Linked DNA regions of Homo sapiens: region 1 is linked to region 2. The links come from fine-mapping of genetic effects on gene expression. Tissue or cell type: skeletal muscle. Region 2 holds a variant in brackets; the other region holds the start of a gene. All regions are shown on one strand. Distances are between the middles of the regions. Region 1 holds the start of GADL1 (glutamate decarboxylase like 1). Region 2 has its middle 110 kb from the start of TGFBR2.

The links. PIP is the estimated chance that this variant, and not a neighbour inherited with it, causes the effect.
Region 1: GADL1 starts here. The variant in region 2 is fine-mapped to the expression of GADL1 in skeletal muscle (GTEx, PIP 0.99).

The regions. Positions count from the first base shown.
Region 1 is chr3:30,892,166-30,896,565 of GRCh38, reverse strand. It overlaps GADL1 (glutamate decarboxylase like 1), which reads left to right and starts at 1,905. Exons shown (of 15, transcript NM_207359.3): 1 at 1,905-1,988. The coding sequence starts at 1,952.
Region 2 is chr3:30,715,452-30,719,851 of GRCh38, reverse strand. No RefSeq gene overlaps it. Among named protein-coding and RNA genes, the nearest start is that of TGFBR2, 110 kb to the right of the region's middle. The variant G/A (reference allele first, on the strand shown) is at 2,388.

The DNA of each region.
Region 1 (4,400 bases), 180 kb before region 2:
GTGCTGGGATTACAGGCGTGAGCCATCGCGCCTGGCCTATAGAAACGTTTTATAAGTTTTTAAATTTGTTACAATAAGCTAGGATTAATTTATTATTAAATAAAGGAAAATATTTTAATACATTTAGTATGGCCTAAAGGTACAGTGTTTATGAAGTCTACAGTAGTGTACAGTAATTTCCTAGGGCTTTCATTCTCACTTAATACTGCCTGCCTTACTCAGAGCAACCTCCAATCCTACAAGCTCCAATCACGGTAAGTGCCCTATGCAGATGTAACATGTTATTTTATCTTTTATACCATAATTTTGCTGTATCTTTTCTATGTTTAGATACACAGTTATTTACCATTGTCTTACAATTGCCTACACTAATCAGTGCAGTGACATGCTGTACAGGTTTGCAGTCTGGGAGCAATAGACTATACCATGTAGCCTAAGTGTGTTGTGGAATTTACCATCTAGGTTTGTGTAAATACACTCTAGGATGTTCGCATGATGGATCGCCTCGATATGCATTCTCAGAATGTATCCCCATCATTAATCAACACACGACTGCACTTCTTTCAGTATATTTTAATAGAGTTACAGAAGATTAACTCCTAGTGTTATTTACGTTTTCATCACTAGATCTCAGTGATATTTCTGCTGAGACTGGATACAAAAGAGTATGTGGGGTTCTCAGAAACTTACACAGTCTTTCTGAAATTTATCTGCAGGGTCTTGACTTTAGTAACTCTGGTTGTTGGTATATTAGAAATAATCTATTCTTATTTGGAAGAAAGGTCTGCCCTGTCTTCACCGATGTGAACTATAATTATGCTTGCCAGAGGAAAAAAATTCACCTGCTAAGAAGTGACACTAGGCATTTGCAAATGTAAAGCGATTTTCTTTTTTTTAGTCCATTGAGATCTGGATTACAAATGCAGCTCCGTAAATGTAGTTGTCATAAATGTGCTTTGAAATGGCATTAACTGATTGTTTCTATCCCATCGACAGCCTCAGTTAAAAGCTCCTAAGGGAATTTAACTTTAAACATAAAGCCTGTTGGAGGAATGACAAAAATGCCGCATTCACTAATTAAATTTAAATTTACAATAGGAACGTGACTGAAACTAAAATTCCAAGGGCTTGCTGGAGCAAACACAGGGAGAAAATTTTACTCTAAAGACTAGACAAATATTGAGCCTTTTACAACATTTCACCTTTTACCACCTCCTTTTGCTCATTACTATAAGGTAACAACATGCCCAGCACCCCCTACCATTTCCCTTTTCCAAACTTAAAATTTTGCAGAGGCACACACACACACACACACACAAAGTTGAAAGTGGACTGGGAAAAGGGATTCACTTATAGAACTCTTAAATGTCAGGGCAGAGCTGAATGAATGGGTAGTGGATCCTGTTCACCACAGCTGCCCTAAAATAGGTTCCTTCAGCTGATGACCTGGTGCAGGCATCATATTTAGCCTGGGGCTCCTCCGGCTGGATGAGGCTCTGCGAAGTGGTTACTCCAAAGAACTGGACGCTGGAAAGGTCACCAGGCCAAGAGCCACTTATCTGCCTTGCCCAGCCTGTATCCTAGGAGGGCTGGTAGGGTGCTCCCTGCCTTTTCCTACCCAAATTACCCACGCTCCTACACACTTCCCCACCCCTTCCCCGCAAAGGCGGAGAGACCCTGGCCCTGGGTCAAGCCTGTGGCAAAGCAGCCAGCAGCGCTCCAAATATTAACAGAGAGCCGCGGGCTGCAAAAGCCTGGCACTGGAGCCTTGGATAGCAAAGTGAAAGGAGCACGGAGCGCGCGCGTCCTCGTCCCTCCGTTTGCACTGGTGTTCTCTCCGCGGCTGCCTGGTGCACCTGCGGGTCCCCCGGGGGGCGCTGCCTCGGCAACCACCGTCGCCGCCCAGACTGCGGGAGCCGCGCCCGGGGCAGCCTGGAGTGGGGGAGCGGAGATGAGCAGCGACTCGGACCGCCAGTGTCCTGTGGACGGTAACGACTCAGCGCGGCTGCGGTTTTTGTCCTTAACCTCCCCTGTCTGGGTTTTAATCTCCTTATTTTTGACCTGGGGACTAGAAGTTTGGTTATTTCTTTGTAAAGCGGCTGGGGTGGGTAGAAAGTCCCCATCTTCATGGATTTTTTCTCCGTTTTCCGTACCTAAAAGGTTATTATTTAGAATCAAATGAGTTAACTTTTATAAAGCGCGAAGAACCGCGCCTAAGACATAACGGGCGTTTGTTAAATAAATGCGTATTGAGATTTTACTGCTTGGCGAACTGCCGCATGTTTCCCTAGTTAGATTGGAAGTACCTGCCCTGTAAAAAAGATGATTTTGCTTCTTTCTGGGGGACAAGGACAGCATCATCTCAGTCCTTTCACCTGCAGCCAGCTATTCTATAAACAGGGGTTAAAAGAGGCCACCGTCATCTCAGAGTAGGTGATGCCCTTAATGTTCTTTGGTTCAGAGCTGCAGATTGAGAACGGGGACCTTAGTTGTTTAAAGATCGTATGCAGCAGAATTCCTCCAAACTGTCTTTATAACTCAGGTGCCACTTAGTTCTATTTCTGTAAAATAATAGTTGCTGCTTCTTTGAAAGGTTATCATTATTGTTATTCAGGTATTCTCACTAACTAGTTGTTGGCGTTTTAGGAGTGATCCTCCAGGAATAACTCCTCTTTGTATCAATAACTTTTTTGAATTGTGCTGAACACAGCTTAATGAAGTCTCAAAGTTGAAGCTCTCTGGGGGCATCTGCTCAACAGGTAGGTCAGGTAACTCAGCTGGGGTCCCCTGCGGATCAGTCATTTTCAGGGCTGGGAATTTTGCACAGTAGTTGGTGAGGCAGAAACCATTTGGCTGAAACAAATATTTCACCTTTTAATGTCCCAGGGAGAGTTTCCAGCATAACTGTCCTGACGCTCTTTTAAAAAAACTTTAAAACTTGTACTATCATTATTATTTTTATATATGGCATAATAAAACCTGGCACTTAGAAGTAGAAAGTTAGAATAGTGGTTACCAGAGGCTGGGGAGCGGAGAGGGCTGTAGAAAGGTAGGTCAATGGGTATAAAGCTGCAGTTAGTAAGAATAAATTCCAGTGTTGTATTGCACAGTAGGGTGAATATAGTTAATGATAATGTATATTTCAAAAAAGCTAGAAGAGAGGATTTCAGTGTTCTCACCACCAAGAAATGACAGGTGTATGGTAATTACCCTGATTTGGTCATTAAACAATGTATGTATGTGTTGAAGCATCATATTGTAGCCCATAAACAGGTACAATTATGATGTCTCAATTAAAAACAATAAAACTTAAAAAGAAGAAAAACAACTGACACTGAAAACTGCTAAGGCATTTTGTCAGACTCTTAATGTTTCTAGGGTCAGCACATACTTATTTAAATATTTGGTTAGGCTGGGCATGATGGCTCACGCCTATAATCCCAGCACTTTGGGAGGCCGAGGTGGGCAGATCGCTTGAGGTCAGGAGTTTGAGACCAGCCTGGCCAACATGGTGAAACCCCATCTCTACTAAAAATACAAAAAATTAGCCGGGCGTGCTGGTGGGTGCCTGTAATCCAGTACTCGAGAGGCTGAGGCAGGAGAATCGCTTGAACCTGGGAGGCGGAGCCTGCAGTGAGCCAAGATTCGCGCCACTGTACTCCAGCCTAGGTGACAGAGCAAGACTCTGTCTCAAAAAATAAATAAATAAAATAAATATTTGGCTATTTGAGAATGGATTGAAAAGTATAGATTATTTAGGAATCCTAATAATACAGGAGACTTCTTTATGTGAAGGAAGGATGGTTAAAATAGTTTTATCTGACCTTAACCCTGCTGTTTTGTTTTTAACCTTAATTCTTGTTTTAAAGCCATATAGCATAGTCTTCAGAAATATGATAGAAACTTTTAAAAACAGTAACAAAAAAACCAAGGTATCTACTTTTCTTAGATTAAGCATGTACCTTGTAACAAAGCATGTCTGTAGCTTGTGGTGGCTTTGGTAGCTGAATATATGATTTATAAATAGTAAAGTTCAAAGTTTGCCTTAAATCTGAATTTCTGAAAACACCACAATTCTTGGGTTGCTCTCTGGTTATCCTTGAGCAGGTGATAAGGCAGCAACACACCTAATTATGCCAAATGCTTGCTATGGTATCTTAAAAGAGTACAAGACAACTATCTGTCAGACTAAGTAATCCTCCAAGTATGTATGATGAGATCCTGAAGGTAACATTGAATTCGTATGTTAAATGATATCTTGTCTTAAATTCTCTTGTTGAATATCTGTTACAGACCTATACATTACGGAAGAATACCATAGGGAATCCTGTTGCAGATAAAGAATTCTTATTCTGCTCTTTATGCTTTGATATCTTTTATGATCTTGCTGTAGTACATGC
Region 2 (4,400 bases):
ATGGTGAGTCCTAAACAATTTTTATTCTGTTATTTGAAAGCTTTGAAGTTTCTCTGGGTAAGTCATGCTCTGCCGGAAATGAAGGGATGAGAAGATTGTTAAACCGTAATGGAAACACAGCTGTTCTCTCTGCAGGTGTGGTTCCTTTCTGCTGATGGGCTGGGTACAGAAAAGGATGAGCAATGGATGCTTGAGCAAATGTCATTATCTCAACTCCCCTCTCTTGGGACGCATTTAAGAACCCATGCTAAATAGAAAAATATGTCTTTCATCTCATATCTAAGTTAACATGTGGGTTGAATTTTTAGTTGAATGACTAGATCAAGTGTTCAAAAACCCCTCTAAGGCCTCTAATTTGGATCTATAGGAGAGAATTTTCTCATTCTGGGACGAATATCCCCAAATCAGTGTTTTACTGTCCGTTGTCTGGAGCCTGTGAATCAGTTTTGGTATTCTCACATCTTTGAGGGCAGAGCTATGCAATCCAACCTGAATGGCTTCTGGGGGGCTTTTACATTCATGTTATAGTGACTTGCTGGTTTGCATATCGCCCTAATCTGGTATGCAAATTGTGAGGAAATGTTAAAAATCTTTACTCTCTGCAAGCTCAGGATATCCATATGTAGTTGTAGCTGAATAAGGTATAGGTGAGAATTTCTGCATCTCTTCTCCTAATGTGAACAAACAAGGGTGAAGAACAGATCCTAGAGATTATGAATAAACTAATTGTGTGGCACCCAGGCCTGTTCCACCCCTACTATAGCTAGCTAAATCAGTGAAATAACAGTCACGTGATTAATCCTGCATATTTATGCTCTAGCATAGTGTTTCCAATCTCTATTGGTCTGAGTTTTAAGATCATGGAAACATCTTAATAGATATAGGTTTCACACAACAGCTCTTCTCCTGGCCTATGGTGTATGTATGTAGTTACAGATCAGGGACTGGATTATAGGTTGAAGGCATGGTACTTTTAGGGATGGGGCTGACTTGGTCAGGATGTTTGTCAAGTGTTGGCAGCAGGTCTGGGTTCTCCAAAGCCAAAAAGGAAGTATAAGATTTTTAACTGAAATGCAGTGACCACCACTATACTTTACATCTTGGGAAAAGAGTAGATTGAATGCTGCATAGGCCAAGCCTAAACAATAAAATCCAATTTCCAAAGATGGAGAGTAAAGCAAGAGTTAACAGAGCCTGGTAGAGCTACAAATACATAACTTCCGAAAGAGATCAAATTGGTACCAAGGTCATTGACCTGAACACTACAGCCAGTGTTTAAGCTTCCCCTTCACAGGTCAGCAGTTTAATATACGTGATGTGTGTGGATCACACTATTCTAAAGGACCAATAGTAAGGGTGCACTATTATGAGTAAGGGCATTTGTGGAATATTGATGCAAGTCTTTGACTATGGGTAAGTGGAAAAAAGGATTGTCATTACCAGAGAAATTTGGAAGGAAGCTTAGTTAAGTAGGCAAGTGGTGAATGAATTTGGATGAGCAAGTAACTTCCAAAAAGAGATATGATAGAATTCAGAAAACTGAAACACACTGACAATCATAACTTACTACTGCATATGAAAACCGAAGAAAAACTGGATCACCAGCCACTGTGCCAACTGCCGTCTTCTAAGAAGCGCCTGGTAATTAGAAGTCAATGGTTGGCATTTATGCTGCTGCTGCTGCAGCTCTCAAATCCCGTGGTTGCTGAATGTTCTGTGATGCTGCTTTCTGTAATCATAACTAAATGTCTTAAAGTCTTAGGCCTGATGCTCTAAATGGGTTGCCTTTGGTTCTTATCTTCAAAATAAAAAATCCAATGAATATTCTTCAAAGAGTTTGCTGAATTAAGAGCACTAGCTGCATGTTTGGGTGACTTTGGACCCCATTGTGAGTTTCATTGCTTACAGATGATTTTTCTTAATTTGAAGAGTAATTGCCCATGAAATCCCTTTTCTCTCTTTTTCACCAAAACAGCCATTAAATGCTGAAAACGAGGAAAAAATACTTAGCCACAGTTATTCCGGATCACAAGAGTCAAGCATATTTTAGGTTTCACAAAGATTAGATATCAGTTTGCTTCCTGGTAGAGAGTTGACCTGAGTAAGTTACAGTGGTGAAGTAGAGCATCAAACTCAACCAATTTAAGCTGCTGTGGGCTTCTCACGAACTTAAAGGACAAACCTGAATCACCAGGAAAGAAATGGAAAACATCCATAGCATATTGGGAGAAAAGGGAGTAATAAACTGACCTCACAGAGTCAGAAAAAGAGAGAGAGAGATTAAAGGGGGTAAGATTTAGTTGTGGGTAGAAAATATAAACAGTTATTTTTTAAACATGTTATAGTGCTTTACGTTTACCCAAATATTCTTTCTTAAATAATCCTGA[G/A]AAGTATTATTTTATTAATTCAATCACTTATGTATCCTGCATATAATTTTGTGCTTCTGTAATTCAACTCTGCACTGGAAACAGCAGATATTAGCAATGATTGTTGGATATATAGATAATAAATGAATAAATATAAAATAATTTGATGTTTAGATGAATTAAGCACAAGATTGACTTGAGAAAACTGTCAGAAGTAAAATAAATGAACAGAGAGATAAAAGGATTGGGTGATAAAATAATAGATGTAAAAGCTAGAATTAAAGTATTTAAAGAAAGTGTTCCATTTCTACAAGATGGAGTAGCAGGAACCAAATTTATTCTTTCACATGAAACAACAAAACAACAGGGCAAAATATATTAAATAAGTTTTTAAGACATTGGACATCAGGTAATGAAGGACAGTGATCCCTGAGAAATAGGAAGCTAATGAGGTGAACCCAATGATTGCTCCAGCTTAATGAATGAGAGGTGTTTTTTGTTTGTTTTTTAAGTGTGGCACAGGAAGAGAAGCCAAGATGGATCTCAGAAGACTCTTTGAGTTAAAGAGACGGATTTGAAACACTGGGAGACCAGGTAGCTAGAGGATTGGGACAGATTACTGAAGAGAAAAGAGCTACATTGAGAGAAAATTCTGATCCGCAGAGAGTCTCCCTTGAGTCTTCAACAGAGTACTGATCAGCACATGCATGTAAGAAAACTACCTGAGGCTGAAGAAAGAATTCCCTTAGAAGGTTTAAGGAAACAGTGTCCAGTTCTCATACAGGGCCTGTAATATTGCCTCCTTCTACTAGCCAGGCTGAAAAACCTCATGATTTACAAGACATTGGGTAGAATACTTAGAAAAGCATTGGGTAGAATACTTTAAAAAGCCTTGCCTCAATAGTAGGACAAAATTAGCCTTAGACTAAGATGTCTGGGTTGTGTCTGGTCTTATTACTGATGATGTTAATGTTGATCACTTGGTTAAGGTAGTACCTGGCAGGTTTCTCCATTGTGAAGTTTACTGTTTTTCCCTTTTCATGCACTATTATTTATAAGTGAGTTACTTATGGAGGAGAATTAAGCTCCATTTTTGGAGTGAGGAGTATAAAAGAATCTGTAGACATAAAGTAAAACCACTAACAATAATTAATAAATATTTTAGGGGAGATTTTTAAGGCTATGCAAGTATCCTATTTCTCCTTACAGTTTTGCTCACTAATTTTTGCAGTCATCAGTGGATGCTGCCAGCTGCAATTATTCCTGTGGTGTTCTACTGCTAACTTTTGTTTGTTTGTTTTTTGAGACGGAATCTCACTCTGTAGCCCAGGCTGGAGTGCAGTGGCAGGATCTCGGCTTATGGCAACCTCCTCCTCCCAGGTCCCAGTTCAAGCAATTCTCCTGCCTCAGCCCCCTGAGTAGCTGGGATTACAGGCACACACCACCATGCCCAGATAATTTTTGTATTTTTAGTAGAGACGGGGTTTCACCATGTTGGCCAGGCTGGTCTTGAAGTCCTGACCTCATGATCCACCCGCCTCGGCCTCCCAAAGCGCTGGGATTACAGGCATCAGCCACCGCACCTGGCCCCACTTTGTATTTCTGTCATCTCTTTTACATTTATCAATTGGAATTATTTTGTAAGAAAAACATGCATTTCTCCATAGTTATTTATGTATTTAATTTTGTACTTATATCAGTGTGGACTCGAGGATATTCATTTTATGCTCAGGTGGTTCCAGGTTTGATCACTGGGAGCTTTCACAGATTGACTTCTGTGTCCTTTTGACATGCCCTCACCTTAGAGGTTTATATTTATATCATTGATCAAATTTAGAAAGTTTTAACTCATTATTTCTTTAAATAGTCTATTTTTCTCTCTCTTCTCCTTCTAGGACTTTCACAATGTGTACATTGATTCACTTGATGGTGTCCCAAAAGCCAGTTCACTTTTCTTTAATCTTTTTTCTTTCTATTTCTTGTGTTAATAATTTCCATTGTCTTATCTTCAAGTTCGCTGATTCTTTCTTCTGC